Regions from separate parts of the Homo sapiens genome. Here region 1 is linked to region 2. The links come from fine-mapping of genetic effects on gene expression. A gene starts in region 2. The other region holds a variant in brackets. All regions are shown on one strand. Distances are between the middles of the regions.

Region 1 (8,325 bases), 27 kb after region 2:
GTGAGTCCTGACCCAGGGGAATGGGTAGGTTTGCATGCTGCCAGTGTAGACTGGTGGGGACTGTGGAGGGGTAAGTCAGTCAGACCCCAGGAGAGGAGGAGAGCAGGTTTGCCCGCGAGTGTATACCATGTGCAGGTGAGTGAGGCCCCATGTGCCCGGAAGGGGTGCCAGTGCTACAAGAGGTGGACCAGCTGCTCAACGCCGCAGGGGGTGGTGGAATGGCCGGGGATGGCAGAATGGCAGGCAGGGTGAACCTTCTTCGTGACCCTCTCCTCCTCCTCTCCAGAGCCATGAACACCAGCCAGGTGGAGGCGCTGGGGATCCAGATGCTGCCTGGCTACCGGGACCCCTACCACGGCCGGCCCCTCACCAAGGGTGAGCTGGGCTGCTTCCTGAGCCACTACAACATCTGGAAGGAGGTGTGTCCTGAGTGATGGGCGGGGCCAGAGTTATGACTCTAGATCTCATCGGAGATTTGGACGGGAAAGGGGTTGAAAGAGTTCCCCAAAGCCCCGGCTAGGCATCCAGCCTCAGCCATGGGACCCATGGCCTCTCTTTAGTGAATGATGCGCCACACCAGCTGTATCACCCCCAGGTGTACCTGCCATCCTTCCATTGCGCAAATGTGGAAACTGAGCCTGGGGGTAGGGGTGAGCCCTTTTGAGCAGCAGGTGGTGTCTGGGGCCTGGGACCTGTAAACAAATCCTCATTACTCCCAGCCTGGTCTCTGTGCTTGATGTTTAGTACTAGAAGTCATGGCCACAGAGCCACTTTAAACCAGCACCTGCCCAGTGCTGCTGGGGGCACTCACCAGCCCAGGCATCCTCATCCACCCTCAGAGGGAGAGGCTGTGATTGGAGGAGGGTGTCTGACTAGGCTTCGAACTTGGGCCATCAGGGCCGGGCATGGTGGCGCACACCTGTGGTCCCAACTATTTGGGAGGCTAAAGTGGGAGAGTGGCTTGAGCCCAGGAGTTAAGGCTGCAGTCAGCCAAGATCGTGCCACTGCACTGCAGACTGGACAGCAGAGCAAAACCGTGTCTCAGAAAAAAGAAAAATGGCTGGGCGTGGTGGCTCATGCCTGTAATCTCAGCACTTTGGGAGGCCGAGGCAGGCGGATCACCTTAGGTCAGGAGTTCAAGACCAGCCTGGCCAACATGGTGAAACCTAGACTCTACTAAAAATACAAAAATTATCTGGGTGTGGTGGTGGGCACCTGTAATCCCTCTACTTGGGAGACTGAGGCAGGAGAATCACTTGAACCCAGGAGGCAGAGGTTGCAGTGGGCTGAAATCATGCCATTGCACTCCAGCCTGGGCGACAAGAGTGACACTCCATCTCAAAAAAAGAAAAATAAAATCCGGGCGTAGTGGCACATGCCTGTAATCCCAGCTGCTCAGGAGGCTGAGGCAGAATTACTTGAACCTGGGAGGCGGAGGTTGCAGTTGAGATCGTTCCACTGCACTCCAGCCTGGGCGACAGGGCGAGACTCCGTCTCAAAAAAAAAAAAAAAGAAAAAGAAAAGAAAAACTTGTTATCGAATGTGAAGCCAAATGGGGGTGTGCGGCTGCAAGGCGGGAGGTGCATGAGGCGTGGGCATTTGAGGGGCTGGGAGGCCTTTCTCTTCTGAGATCCATTATGGACGGCAGAGGGCAGAGGTTTGGATGTCCAGATGTCCCTGGAGCTAGGAGAGGCAGGGAGATGCACTGGCTTCTCTACGGGTCTTTCAAACCTTCTCAAAGCAAAGCTCTGTGCTTTAGGGTCAGGCCTGGCCTTGGCCTCCCTGTGATGTGGCGGGGCTTCCTCCCTCAGGTGGTGGACCGGGGGCTGCAGAAATCGCTTGTGTTTGAGGATGACCTGCGTTTTGAGATCTTCTTCAAGAGACGTCTGATGAACCTCATGCGGGATGTGGAGCGGGAGGGCCTGGACTGGGACCTCATGTGAGTGGGGGTCTGAGGATGGGGTGAAGCTGGGGCCTGGGGCAAGGCCAGGACTTAGAGGTGGGGGTGGGGGCAGGGTGGAGCTGGGACCTGGGGATGGGTCATGGCTTAGAGGCGGGGCTTGAAGGTGGGGTGGAACTGGAGCCTAGGTACATGGCCAGGGCTTAGAGGTGGGGCTGGGAGGCGGAGTGGAGCTGAATCCTACGGGCGTGGCCACAGCGCTGCAGCTGAGCCTAGAGCCTGTATGTCTGGGTGTGGTCAGGGTGGCAGGCGTGGCCAACCCTTGGAAGCGTAGCAGGAGGGCTCACGTGGTTCCTGGGCCTGAAGGCACTGTCAGGGCTGTAGCCTATAGGGAAGGGCGTTGGAAGGATCACCCAGAACTCAAGGGACCTGGCCGGAAGCCTGCAGGCTTGGTCAAGGCTTAGAGACTTGACTGAGGCCTGTGGAGGTGGATGTGGCTAAAATTTGACCGGGCAGCCTGTGGGCGTGGCTGAAGAGCATGGGGGTGTGGTCAGAGCTGGAGGTGTGGCCGAAGAGTGTGGGGGCGTGGCCAGGGCGCCTGGTCTTAGACAAGCCCCTGGATGGGAGTGCCACCAACATGTTTCCAGCACTGGAGCCGTCCTTCTCTTCTGTAAGTGGGCTGGTTTGTCCTCTCCCTTCCTCCATCTCTTTTTTCCCTTCCATGTGCAGTGCCCTAATCTGCATTCTGGGAACACTGCCCCATGTGAATAGTAACTGCACCCCTCCATTCCTGACTGCCCCCCCATCAGGGCACCTCGCCCACCTCCACCCCCACTGTCCTCTGAACTCAGAGCAGCTTCAGCCTCAGAGAACGTCTGCGTGATCCTGCTCTCCCCAGCTCCAGATCCTCCATGGCTCCCTCACGCCCTTTGGAAAAACTCACTCTTCTCCCCCATGACCGCCAGACCCCTGGGCTCCTGCATTCACTCCATCCAGTCACAGAGCTCTGCAAACATGCTGAGCCTGCTCCCATCCCAGGACCTGACGGGGTAACTAGATCCCTGGCTTTCTGGGCAAGCTCCCTCCGGAGGGCGGGAGGAGAGTGACAGGCCCGATCTTGCACCCCAGCTATGTGGGCCGGAAGCGGATGCAGGTGGAGCACCCCGAGAAGGCTGTGCCTCGCGTGAGGAACCTGGTGGAGGCCGACTATTCCTACTGGACCCTGGCCTACGTGATCTCCCTGCAAGGCGCCCGCAAACTGCTGGCTGCTGAGCCGCTCTCCAAGATGCTGCCTGTGGACGAGTTCCTGCCCGTCATGTTCGACAAACACCCAGTGTGAGAGGGGCAGGCGGCTGCTGGGCTGGGGTTTCACGGTGGGTCTGTCCTGGGAGAATGGGGATGTGAGACTCACGGCCTCCGAGAAGATGTCTCTTCTTTTGCCTACTTCTCCCTCCGTTTGCCCCCTCGCAGATCTGTCTCCATTTGTATCCCCTGCACACTTACGTTTTAATCTGTCCCCGCTGACTTCTTCACCCCCAATTTTTCCTCCAGCTGTCCCGTCCCCTGAAGCCATTGCTGCCCCTCACTCCCCTCCTCCTCCCCCCAGGTCCGAGTACAAGGCCCACTTCTCCCTCCGCAACCTGCATGCCTTCTCTGTGGAGCCGCTGCTCATCTACCCCACACACTACACAGGAGACGATGGCTATGTGAGTGACACCGAGACCTCAGTCGTATGGAACAATGAGCACGTCAAGACCGACTGGGACCGCGCCAAGTCCCAGAAGATGCGGGAGCAGCAGGCACTGAGCCGTGAGGCCAAGAACTCGGACGTGCTCCAGTCCCCACTGGACAGTGCTGCCCGGGATGAACTCTGAGGGGTAGCAGCCAGAAAGCCAAAGCAGCCATCGGTGGCCCAGGCTCCACGTGCTTACTGAGGACATCAGGTCCACCTCTGGACCCCTTGGCAGGCCACAGAGGGCTCTCGTGTGGGGTGGTGTCCAGCCAGCTCTTGCTAAGCAATCACGTGCACACAGGCAGCATTAATGGAGTGCCTACTGCATGCCAGCAACAGGGCTTGGCCCTGGGGAATTGGGAGGAACCAAGCCCTCTTCATCTGTTCATGTGCCCAGCATTTATTAAGCACCTGCTGTATGCAAGGTTCCCATGTTACGGCAGTGAATGAGGCATAATTGTTCCCTCCATCAGCGATTGATTCAGTCATCAAGCAGTTACTGATCAGATTAAGAATCAGGCACTAGTGATACACATTCATTTTTAAAATTCATTCAAGGATTTATTGAGTGCCTACTGTGTGTTGGGTGCCATTCCAGGCTCTGGGATTTTTTTTTTTTTTTTTTTAAGAGTAGAGTCTGTCTCTGTCACCCAGGCTGGAGTGCAGTGGTGTGACGGCTCACTGCAGCCTGCGCCTCCCAGCGTCCAGCAATTCTTGTTTCTCGGCCTCCCAAGTAGCTGGGACTATAGGTGCGTGCCATCACATCTGGCTAGTTTTTGTATTTTTAGTAGAGACGGGGTTTCACCATGTTGGCCAGGCTGGTCTCGAACTCCTGACCTCAAGTGATCTGCCCGCCTTGGCCACCCAAAGTGCTAGGGTTACAGGCATGAGCCACTGTGCCCAGCCCAGGCTCTGGGAATATTGAGATAAATAAGATGCTTCTATCCATTTATTCAAGCACATATTGGTCACCTACTGTGTGCCTGGCACTCATGTCACAAAGATAAGTTCCTGATTCGGTACACTTACTGAGCACCTGCTGTGTGCAGGGAGCTGAGCTATGGGATGGGAATGGGAGTAAACAAGGTACTTTTTACTTTTTTCTTTTTTTCCTCACTGCTAGACGGTGTGGGAACTTCTCACTCATTGGCTTCTTTCCCACACACCTGAAGAGCACTGACTGTGTGCCGGGCACTAGTGATACAAAAGAGTGTGACAGTTGTTCAGTCTGCATTTTCGATCATGGGCTACATGCCGAGTGCTGGGGCACAGAGATGAACAAGATCGGTTCCTTCACTTCTTCATGCCACAAGTGTTTATTGAGCACCTGTGTGCCAG[G/A]CCTCACAGACTCCCAGTTGGGTTGAAGAATGGTTGACTGAGTTTGATTCTTCCTGTACCCTCGGTCGTCTGAGCTGTGTGCAGACAACATCCCCCCACCACCCAAGAGGGAGGGTAGCTCTTCCGCCACCAGGGGCAAGCACAGGTCCTGGTGGCCCCACGCCACATGTTAGCCCCCCTGGAGGGGGCGCCAGTTGGAGACGGGGGCTGGGTGTCCCTGGCCCACTCCCGGTCCCCTGTGCTTTACCTCCTTGCCCTTGTGTCTCAGGTGTGGTCCCTGCCTGCTTGATGAAGTTGCTCTGTTCAAGCCTTTGGTGGGATCATGTGTTTGGGGGCTTTTAGGGGACCCAGCTGCACTGGGGCACTGCCCGTGGCCTGGGTAGGACATTTCCCAGCAAGGGCTGGAGGAGTTGCCGTGCCTTCAGCCTGAATCGAATGTCAGAACCAGCCAGCGGTGCTTCACCCTCTTGGGGATAACTTGCTTAGTTTTTTAATAAATGTTCCTGGTTGGTTTTCACAGCAGTTTGTGGGATTTTGCTCGGCACCAAAACACTGCCCACGTTCCCCACCCCTGGATGGCCGACAAGATTTGGGAGGAAACCAGGGCAGGTGCAGTAGGGAAGCTGCCCAGTGGGGCCTGGCATGGTGGCTCATGCCTGTAATCCCGGTGCTTTGGGAGGCTAAGGTGGGCGGATCACTTGAGGTCAGGAATTCAAGACCAGCCTGGCCAACATGGTGAAACCCCCTCTCTATTAAAAGTACAAAAATTAGCCTAGTGTAGTGGGGCGGGGTGGCGGGGGGGGGGTACCTGTAATCCTCGCTACTTGGGAGGCTGAGGCAGGAGAATCGCTTGAACCTGGGAGGTGGAGGTTGCAGTGACCCAAGATTGAGCCACTGCCCTCCAGCCTGGGCGGCAGAGCAAGACACAATCAAACCAAAAAAAAAAAAAAAAAGCTGGCCAGTGGAGCTACTGTGGGGTGAGGGTGTGGTAAGAGCCCTGTGTCCCCTCATGCCATAAAACTTCCCCCAAACAGGCGGGGGACCGACAGCTCTGTCTTGAGTCAACTTCAGGATCCTTCCACATGACTTCGAATAAAGAGGGGCTGTCGTGCTTTGAGTCCCCCTAAAACAGACCTCAACATGAGGATTAGGGCTGGGCATGGTGGTTCACGCCTGTAATCCCAGCACTTTGGGAGGCCAAGGTGGGTGGATCACCTGAGGTCAGGAGTTCGAGACCAGCCTGATCAATAAGATGAAATCCCGTCTCTACTAAAAATGCAAAAAGCAGCCAGGCATGGTGGTGTGTGACAGTAGTCCCAGCTACTTGGGAGGCTGAGGCAGGAGAATCGCTTGAACGCAGGAGGTGGAGGTTGCAGTGAGCTGAAATCTTGCCACTGCACTCCAGCCTGGGCAACAGAATGAGACTCCATCTCAAAAAAAAAAAAGGATTAGGCTGGGTGAGGTGGCTCACTCCTATAATCCCAATGCTTTGGGAGGTTGAGGAGGTGAGAGGATTGCTTGAGGTCAGGAGCTCAAGACCAGCTTGGGCAACAGAGTGAGACCCTCGTCTCTACAAAAAAAATTGAGAAATTAGTTGGGCATGGTAGGGCACACCTGTAATCTGGCTACTCAGGAGGCTGAAGCAGGAGTATCTCTTGAGTCTAGGAGGTTGAGGCTGCAGTGAACCATGATCACACCACTGCACTCCAGCCTGGGCAACAGAGCAAGACCCTGTTTCTATAAAACAAAACCAGAAAACTTCCCTGAAATAGCCCAGGGACAGGTGGCCAACTTCATTCTATCTTGGATCAACCACAGGATCGTCGCAGATGACTTCAAATGAGGAGGGGCTGTCATGGTTTGGGTCCCCTGAAACAGACTCCAAGATGAGGATTGAAGGGCACTTACGTTATCAGTGACCCCAGGAACTTGCTGTGGAGCAGTAGGGAAGTGAGACAAGAAGGGAAAGAGTGGTCCCACCCCAGGGAGAGGGGGCTGGACATTACAACATGCCCAGTTGCATTTGGATTTTCTGGGTCAAATGCTTACAAATCCTCTGGATTATTACACCTTTAGGGTGTGCAAGAATATACCCGAGACTTTTATAAACTAACACAGGGGCCAGGCGCGGTGGCTCACACCTGTAATCCCAGCACTTTGGGAGGCCGAGGCTGGTGGATCATGAGGTCAGGAGTTCGAGACCAGCCTGGCCAATATGGTGAAACCCCGTCTCTACTAAAAATACAGAAAAATTAGCTGGGCATGGTGGTGAGCGCCTGTAGTCCCAGCTACTTGGAGGCTGAGGCAGAAGAATCACTTGAACCTGGGAGGCGGAGGTTGTAGTGAGCCGAGATCACGCCACTGCACTCCAGCCTGGGCGACAGAGCAACACTCTTGTCTCAAAAAACAAAAAACAAACAACAACAAAAAACCCTAACACTGATGGTGTTCAATCAGTGTGGAAAAAATCAGAACTTACAGCTAAGCAAATTGACAAAGCAAAAATTAAATCACACCTTTTCAGACACAACTAACATTTTCAAAAACTTTCCAGCCTTCCTTATTTGCATGGTGTAAATATATATGCATTTTTTAAAAAAGGAGGACCATGTTACCTAAGCTACTGCAACTTGCCGTTTTATTTTTCGTGGAATGCACTTTTATTTTCTAAGCATGGGATCAAACTGTACCTATTTTTTAAAAAACAACTTTTATTTTTAAATTTAACAACTATTGTGGACCTCCTTTCCAAAATAGGGTTAACATCTACGAGCTCTTTTTGGATTGTTATGGAAAATATTCCCTGCTGTTTCCTGCAGTGGATAGCATTATACAATACATCTTTCCTACTGGATTTTTTGTTTTTTTGTGTTTTTTTGTTTGTTTTGTTTTGCTTTTTGAGACGGAGTCACACTCTGTCACCCAGGCTGGAGAGCAGTGATACGATCTTGACTCACTGCAACCTCCGCCTCCTGGGTTCAAGCAATTCTCCTGCCTCAGCCTCCTGAGTAATAGATTACAGGCGCCCGCACCACACCTGGAGAATTTTTGTATTTTTAGTAGAGATGGGGTTTCACCATGTTGGCCAGGCTGGTCTTGAACTCCTGACTACAAGTGATCCACCCGCCTTGGCTCCCAAAGTGCTGGGATTGCAGGCGTGAGCCACTGCACCTGGCTTCCTACTGGATTTTAAAATTTCAGTTGGGTAAATTGAGACAGGTGGGATTCCTGGATTAACCTGGATGTGCACTTCAGGTTTCAGTAGAGGCTATCATATTCCTTTTTCTTATTGAATCCTAACTATTCATCATCTATTGGCCAGAGTGAATTATCCATGTTTATTAAACAGTCCCTT
Region 2 (8,325 bases):
TTTTTTTTTTTTTTTTTTTTCAAATGCAGGTTCCTGTGGGCAAATCCCGCAATGGGAACCCTCAGAATTTAAAGTATGTGTGTTTGTCATTTCAACAGAGGGCTGTCCACCAGGGTAGCCTCACTGGTGCCCCTCACCTTTGTCCGGGAGGTTTAGGAGCTGCTTTTAGCTCCTTTTCTGAGAACCTTCTCTCCTATCCTTCACCCTTTCATCTTTTGGCTGCTTATACATTTCTTTTTCTTTTTATTTATTTATTTATTTATTTTTTGAGATGGAGTGTCGCTCTGTCACCAGGCTGGAGTGCAGTGGCAGCATCTTGGCTCACTGTAACCTCCACCTTGCGGGTTCAAGCAATTCTCCTGCCTCAGCCTCCCCAGTAGCTGGGATTACAGGCGTCCACCACCACGCCCGGCTACTTTTGTATTTTTAGTAGACATGGGGTTTCACCATGTCGGCCAGGCTGATTTTGAACTCCTGACCTCAGGTGATCCACCTGCCTCGGCCTCCCAAAGTGCTGGGATTACAAGCGTGAGCCACTGCACCCGGCCTACATTTCTTTTTTTTTATTTTTATTTTTTGAGATGGAGTTTCGCTCTTGTCACCCGGGCTGGAGTGCAATGGCGCGATCTCGGCTAACTGCAACCTCTGCCTCTCGGGTTCAAGCGATTCTCATGCCTCAGCCTCCCGAGTAGCTGGGATTACAGGCGCCCACCACCATGCCCAGCTAATTTTTGTATTTTTAGTAAAGATGAGGTTTCACCATGTTGGCCAAGCTGGTCTTGAACTCCTGATCCTTGGTCTCCCAGAGTGCTGGGATTACAGGCATGAGCCATTGCGCCCAGCCAACATCTCTATTAACTCTGATTTTTTAAGCACTTATTACATGCCAGGCATCTGACACATCTGATTTTTGACGTCCGTATATTTTCCATTATACAGATGAGGAAACTGAGGCTGAGCGGGAAGGAGGGGCTTGTCCCAGGCAGCCAGACTCTGGTGCCCAGATCCAGCCACTCTGCCCACCGCCTTCTCCAGGAACATTCCGGAGCTGAATCTTCACCCACATCTATCTTGTTTCTATTGGATAAATGTCTACAAGTGGAATTTCTGGGCCAAAACGGATGTGCCATCTTTAGGCTTTTGTAACCCCTGCAACTTCAGAAAACTGTACCATTTTATACTCCAAGCAGCAGCATTTATTTGTGTATTTTCCCCAAGGCTTTCTTTATTTTAATTTTTTTTTTTTTTTTGAGACTGAGTCTTGCTCTGTCACCCGGGCTGGAGTGCAGTGGCAGGATCTCGGCTCACTGCAACCTCCGCCTCCCGGGTTCAAGCGATTCTCCTGCCTCAGCCTCCCGAGTAGCTGAGATTTCAGGCACCCGCCACCATGCCTGGTTAATTTTTGTGTTTTTAGTAGAGATGGGGTTTCACCATGTTGGCCAGGCTGGTCTCGAACTCCTGTCCTTAAGTGATCTGCCCCCCTCAGCCTCCCAAAGTGCTGGGATTACAGGTGTGAGCCACCACACGTGGCCTAATTTTTTTTTTTTAAATAATAGAGACAAGGTCTCGCTATGCTGCCCAGGCTGATCTCAAACTCCTGGACTCAAGCAATCCTCCTGCCTTGGCCTCCCAAAGTGCTAGGATTATAGGAGTGATCCACTATGTCCAGCCTCCAAATCCTTTCTAAACACTAGGACTTTTCATGAAAAGAAAAAAGCTATGCCAGTTAGACACACACAGAAATCTCATGATTTTATTTTGAATTTCTTTGACTAAATTGAACTTACAAATAAGTTTATTATGGCCAGGCGTGGCAGTGCACACCTGTAATCCCAGCACTTTGGGAGGCTGAGGCGGGCAGATCACTTGAGCTCAGGAGTTCAAGACCAGCCTGGCGAACATAGTGAGACCTCATCTCTACAAAAAATACAAAATTAGCGGCCGGGAGTGGTGGCTCACGCCTGTCATCCCAGCACTTTGGGAGGCTGAGACAGGTGGATTGCTTGAGCCAAGGAGTTTTGAGGCCAGCTTGGGCAATGTGGTGAAACCTGTCTCTACTAAAAAATAAAATAAATAAATAAATAAATAAATAAATAAATAAATAAATAAAATTTAAAAGAAGCTGGGCTGAGATGGGAGATTTACCTGAGCCTGGGAACTCAAGGCTGCAGTGAGTGGTGATTGCACCACTGCACTCCAGCCTGGGTGATGGGAGTGAGACCCTGTCTCAAAAAACAAAATCCAAATATGTTGATTAGCCATTTACATGTTTGTAGTTTTTTTTTTTTTAATTTCAGTGAATTGCCTGTTCATAGCTTTTTTCTACTTTTCAGGAGTGTTTGCATTTTTCTTATTGATATCTAATAACTCTTTATATCTGAAGGATATGAACGCTTTGTGATACAGGTTACAGATTTTGGGGTTTTTTTCTCCGCTTGCTGTGAGCCTTTTGGGTTTGTTTCCTAGCTCCAAATCTTAACTTGGTGTCAAGTTTCCTGGCTGGGAGACAAGCTTTTACCGACTTCCTCTGCTTGCCAGCAAAGTCATCTGCTAACTGGATATTGGCAGCTTCTCTGCTGTCTTGCAGCTGCTTCCGGAGTGGGTTCCACAGGGATTCCCGTGTGTTCTTGGTTCAGCTTGCAGAGGGACTTTCACACTCCCTGGAGACCGTTTCCTCCCATTCTGTCTGGAGTTTTCGGCCTACCCCAAGACAATGAGATATTCCTGACCTTTCCACCTATTTCCCTCCAACCCCACCTTCCGAAATACATTTGCTCAATACATTTGCACTTCATAGGCTTCTTTAGCTGTCTTCCTTTTACCCCGGACGGGATGTAGATGTTAATTCTGGAACAATTGCAGCTACAAGAATTTGTCATCCTGCCCCTTTTGAGAAAAACATTGTTTGCCCTTGGGTCTAAATCCTTCCAGATGGGATGGGATGTATCTTGTCACCTCCTTTTTCTTACTTAATATGAAAAGACCTTTCCTCATCAAGTCCACAGAGTGTAAATTTGTTTTTACCTTTTTTTTTTTTTTTTTGAGACGGTGTCTCACTCTGTCACCCAGGCTGGAATGCAGTGGTGCGATTTTGGCTCACTGCAACCTCCACCTCCTGGGTTCAAGTGATTCTCCTGCCTCGGCCTCCGTAGTAGCTGGGATTACAGGCGAAGCGCCACCATGACCGGCTAATTTTTTGTGTTTTTAGAAGAGATGGGGGCTTCACCATATTGACCAAGCTGGTCTCGAACTCCTGACCTCAAGTGATCCGCCTGCCTCAGCCTCCCAAAATGCTGGGATTACAGGCGTGAGCCACTGCACCTGGCCTGTATCATTCTTAAAAATTAAGTTTTAGCGGGGCATGATGGCTCACTGGTAATCCCAGCAGTTTGGGAGGCTGAAGGGGGAGGATTACTTGAGACCAGGAGTTTGAGAACAGCCGGGGCAACATAGCGAGACTCCATCTCTACAAAAAATTTAAAAATTAGCTGGGCGTGGTTGAGTGCACTTGTAGTCCCAGCTACTTGGGAGGCTGAGGCAGGAGGATCAGTTGAGCCCAGGAGGTTGAGGCTGCAGTGAGCCATGATCATGTGATCATGCCACTGCACTCTAGCCTGAGCCACAGAGTAAGACCCTCTCTGTGAAAATAATAATAAGCTGGGCGCGGTGGCTCACGCCTGTAATCCCAGCACTTTGGGAGGCTGAGGTGGGCGGATCAGGAGGTCAGGAGTTCGAGACCAGCCTGGCCAATATGGTGAAACCCCATCTCTACTATAAACAAAAATTAGCCGGGCGTGGTGGCGCGTGCCTGTAGTCCCAGCTACTCAGGAGGCTGAAGCAGGAGAATCGCTTGAACCCGGGAGGCGGAGGTTGCAGTGAGCCGAGATCGCGCCACTGTACTCTAGCCGGGGCAATGGAGTGAGACGCTGTCTCAAAAAAAAAAAAAAAGAAAATAATAATAATAATAATAATAATGTTCAGATGTATTTTTTAAAGTTTTTATTGTTTTTAAAAATAGAGGCACGGTCTTGCTATGTTGCACCACTGCACTCCAGCCCGGGCAACAAAGCCAGACTCCGTCTCAAAAAAAAAAAAAAAAAAGTGTGATACTAAGTCAATCAATTTGAAAATGCGGCTCTAGAGTATTGGAAAACAATCCCTTGACAGCGTTTCCATGAAAACATGGCCCTTGTCTCTGGAAGAGCTTGTGCCCAGAACGGTCCATTATCATGCCCTGGCTCTATTTTCACGCCAACCCTATAGGGTCTCTATGATCTCATTTTATAGATGGACAGACTGAGGCTCACATATAGCAAGCCCAAGGCGGGGACTGAATGTGACGCCAGGTCTGTGGACGTCATGACCTTTATTCTCCACAACCCTCAATGACATCCCTGTGAGATCCAAAACCAGGATGGCAAAACCCACGTTGCAGCAGAGGAAACTGAGGCTAAGGTCTCTTGGGTCCCAAACCAGGTCCTAAGTAGCCAAGTCCGCCTGGTGGCACAGCCCGGGTTTTATACATGGGGAAATTGGGCGGCGCATCTGGCGGAGGTCTCAGTGGTAGGAGGCGCCTGGAGGAAGCGCGGGTTCCTAACCCTAACGCTACCCCTAACATCCCTTCCACGCGCTCCGAGCGCTATGTGCCTTTAAGATCGGTGCGGGGGCGGGGCGTCCTGGGTAGGGCTGCAGGTGACGTCACTCCGGGCCTTGGGACTCGGAGAGCGTCTGGAGGCGGGGCCTGGACTTCACGCCCGGCGCGCTCCTCCCCTTTAAGGCGCGCGGCCGGGCGGGGCCCCTATGACCCCTTTAAGGCGCGGCCAGAGTCCTCCCGCAGAAAAACGACTTAAAGGAGACGCGTGGCGCGATGGCGGCGGCCCCACGCGCGGGCCGGCGGCGCGGGCAGCCGCTCCTGGCGCTGCTGCTTCTGCTGCTGGCGCCACTGCCGCCGGGGGCCCCGCCGGGCGCCGACGCCTACTTCCCCGAGGAGCGCTGGAGCCCGGAGTCGCCCCTGCAGGCGCCGCGCGTGCTCATCGCGCTGTTGGCGCGAAACGCGGCCCACGCGTTGCCCACCACGCTGGGCGCACTCGAGCGGCTGCGGCACCCGCGGGAGCGCACGGCGCTATGGTGAGTCGAGCCCGCTGTCCCCATCAGGCGGGTCACGCGAGCCCCTGCTTGCTGTCCCCATAGGGGTGGGTCCACGCGAGCCCCTGCCCGCTGTCCTCTTCTGGGCGGGTCCGCGCGTGCTTCCTGCTCGCTACCCCCATCGGGACGGTTCTACGCATGCCCCTGCCCGCTGCCCCCATCGGGACGGGTCCACGCGTGCCCCCTGCCTGCTGTCCTCCCATGGGGCCAGACACAGCCCTCCCCACAACACAAGCGGGACCGAGTTCCTCCTGCTGGCTCCTTTGGGGTGGGCTGGGCACCGCTTCTGCCTGCTGGACCCTACTAGGGCAGCTCCGGCCTCACTAACTGGGGCTCTAACTCCCTCTGGGGCACGTACACCTCCAAAGGACGGAGCCCAGAGCCCCCACTGGGGCGTTGCCAGAGGCCACATCTAACAGCAAGCCTTTCTGTGCCGGCTGCTGCCCTTAAGCTTGAACTCAGCCTGGCTCCAGGCCCCAGTCAAACCCCTGCCCTCAGACCGGCGTGGGTGGAGTCCAGGACCAGATGGCCCAGGAGGAAGTGGATGCTTTCTTGGTAGGGAATGGGGCAGAGCTCTGAAGAAACCTTTGACTGGTGACTTCTCACTCCCTGCCTCAGTTTTCTCAAATGGAAAATGGGTCCGGGTGCAGTGGCTCACGCAGTAATCCTAGCAATTTGGGAGGCCAAGGTAAGCGGGTCACTTGAGCTCAGGAGTTCGACACCAGCCTTGCCAACATGGCAAAACCCCGTCTCTAGAAAAAAAATACAAAAATTAGCCAGGTGCGGTGGTGTGTGCCTGTAGTCCCAGCTATTCAGGAGGCTGACGCAGGAGAATCGCTTGAGCCCAGGAGTTCGAGGCTGCAGTGACCTATGATTGCACCACTGCACTCCAGCCTGGGCTACAGAGTAAGACCTGCCTCTAAAAAAAGAAAAAGAAAAGAAAATGAGCGTATTAATATAATTCTCTTTTTGGGTTTGTCTCTGAAGATTATCCAGTTAATGGATGTGGAGCCCTTGGGTCTGGCATGGGCTTGGCTCTCAGTGATTTTATTATCATGATTACTGTCATTGCTGGTGTTATTGTCAACTTAATTTATTGGGCAGAATTAGCTTTTGGCACTACGGTCAAACTAAACTCCCAAATGTCGCTTTTCCTTCCACCTGATTTCTCAGTCTGGATAATCCAAATACACAATTGGTACTTAACAAATGTTTGTTGAATGAATAATTGACTGCAGCCCACTGAAGTGGTGTGGCTCACAGGAGAAGATGAAGGCAGGGTAAGGGATTTATGAGATATACTTTGAGATATACTTTTTTTTTTCTCTCAGACGGAATCTTGCTCTGTCGCCCAGGCTGGAGTACAGTGACACGATCTCAGCTCATTGCAACCTCCGCCTCCGGGTTCAAGTGATTCTCCTGCCTCAGCCTCCCGAGTAGCTTGGGATTACAGGTGCGCACCACCATGCCTGGCTAATTTTTGTATTTTTAATAGAGTCAGGGTTTCACCATTGTGGCCAGGCTTGTGTTGATCTCCTGACCTCATGATCTGCCTGCCTCGGCCTCCCTAAGTGCTGGGATTACAGGCATGAGCCACAGCGCCCTGCTGAGATATACTTTTTTTTTTGATACAGGGTTTTACATCTGTCGCCCAGGCGGGAGTGCAGTGGTGCAATCCTAGCTCACTGCAACTTCCCCCTCCTGGGCTCAAGTGATTCTCCTGCCTCAGCTTCTTGAGTAACTGGGACTACAGGCGTATGCCACTGCGCCCAGCTAATTTTTGTATTTTTTCTAGAGATGGGGTTTTGCCCTATTGGCCAGGCTGGTCTCGAACTCCCGAGCTCAAGTGACCTGCCCACCTCGGCCTCCCAACATATTGGGATTACAGGCGTGAGCCATTGCACCCAGCTGGTTTCTGATATATACATTTCATTTTTTAATATTTTTTATTTATTTATTTTTTGAGACTGAGTCTCGCTCTCGTTGCTGAGGCTGGAGTGCAGTGGCACGATCTCGGCTCACTGCAACCTCCTCCTCCCAGGTTCAAGCGATTCTCCTGCCTCGGCCTCCTGAGTAGCTGGGATTACAGGTGCCCGCCACCACACCCAGCTAATTTTTTGTGTTTTTAGTAGAGATGGGATTTCACCATGTTGGCCAGGCTAGGCTCAAACTCCTGGCCTCAAGTGATTCACCCGCCTCGGCCTCCCAAAGTGCTGGAATTACAAGCGTGAGCCACCATGCCCGGCCTAATTTTTGTATTTTTAGTAGAGATGGGGTTTCGCCATGTTGGCCAGGCTGGTCTCAAACTCCTGACCTCAGGTGATACACCCGCCTCGGCCTCTCAAAGTGCTGGGATGACAGGCGTGAGCCACCGTGCCTGGCCTGATCTATACATTACAAAAATTGCCGTGTGCGGTGGCTCATTCCTGTCATCCCAGCACTTTGGGAGGCTGAGGCAGGTGGATCACCTGAGGTCAGGAGTTCGAGAGCAGCCTGGCCAACATGGCGAAACCCCATCTCTACTAAAAATGCAAAAATTAGCTGGGCATGGTGGTGGGCACCTGTAATCCCAGCTACTCGGGAGGCTGAGGCAGGAGAATTGCTTGGACCTGGTAGGCGGAGATTGCAGTGAACCAAGATTGTGCCACTGCACTCTAGCCTGGGTGACAGAGCAAGACTCTGTCTCAAAAGAAAAAAAAAATTAAGTGACACATATTTGTTAGTGAATGTGGTTTGCAAGATCTTAGATGCTCAGTAATAAAACAGCCAATCACTAATGGGTCTTTCCAAAATCAGCTTGTTTAATCCTTCCACTTCCCAGTAAACTGGGTCCTGTTCCCACCCCCATGTTACAGATGAGGAAACTGACATGGAAAGGGAGAAATGGGCCGGGCGCGGTGGCTCACGCTTGTTAAGTCCAGCACTTTGGGAGGCCAAGGTGGGCGGATCACGAGGTCAGGAGATCGAGACCAGCCTGGCCAACATGGTGAAACCCCGTCTCTACTAAAAATACAAAAAAATTAGCCGGGTGTGGTGGCGGGCGCCTGTAGTCCCAGCTACTTGGGAGGCTGAGACAGGAGAAGGCGTGAACCCGGGAGGCGGAGCTTGCAGTGAGCCGAGATCGCGCCACTGCACTCCAGCCTGGGCAACAGAGCGAGACTCTGTCTCAAAAAAAAACAA

Evidence for each region. PIP is the estimated chance that this variant, and not a neighbour inherited with it, causes the effect.
Region 1: its variant is fine-mapped to the expression of COLGALT1 in lung (TOPMed, PIP 0.95).

The regions. Positions count from the first base shown.
Region 1 is chr19:17,577,671-17,585,995 of GRCh38, forward strand. COLGALT1 (collagen beta(1-O)galactosyltransferase 1) reads left to right here. Exons shown (of 12, transcript NM_024656.4): 9 at 287-419; 10 at 1,812-1,939; 11 at 3,029-3,235; 12 at 3,507-5,487. The coding sequence ends at 3,774. Among named protein-coding and RNA genes, the nearest start is that of COLGALT1, 26 kb to the left of the region's middle. RefSeq lists enhancers at 2,226-2,435, 2,270-2,564. The variant G/A (reference allele first, on the strand shown) is at 4,971.
Region 2 is chr19:17,550,847-17,559,171 of GRCh38, forward strand. It overlaps COLGALT1 (collagen beta(1-O)galactosyltransferase 1), which reads left to right and starts at 4,803. Exons shown (of 12, transcript NM_024656.4): 1 at 4,803-5,127. The coding sequence starts at 4,868. NIBAN3 (niban apoptosis regulator 3) reads left to right here. Exons shown (of 15, transcript NM_001321827.2): 15 at 940-2,794. The coding sequence ends at 1,052. RefSeq lists a silencer at 4,881-4,970.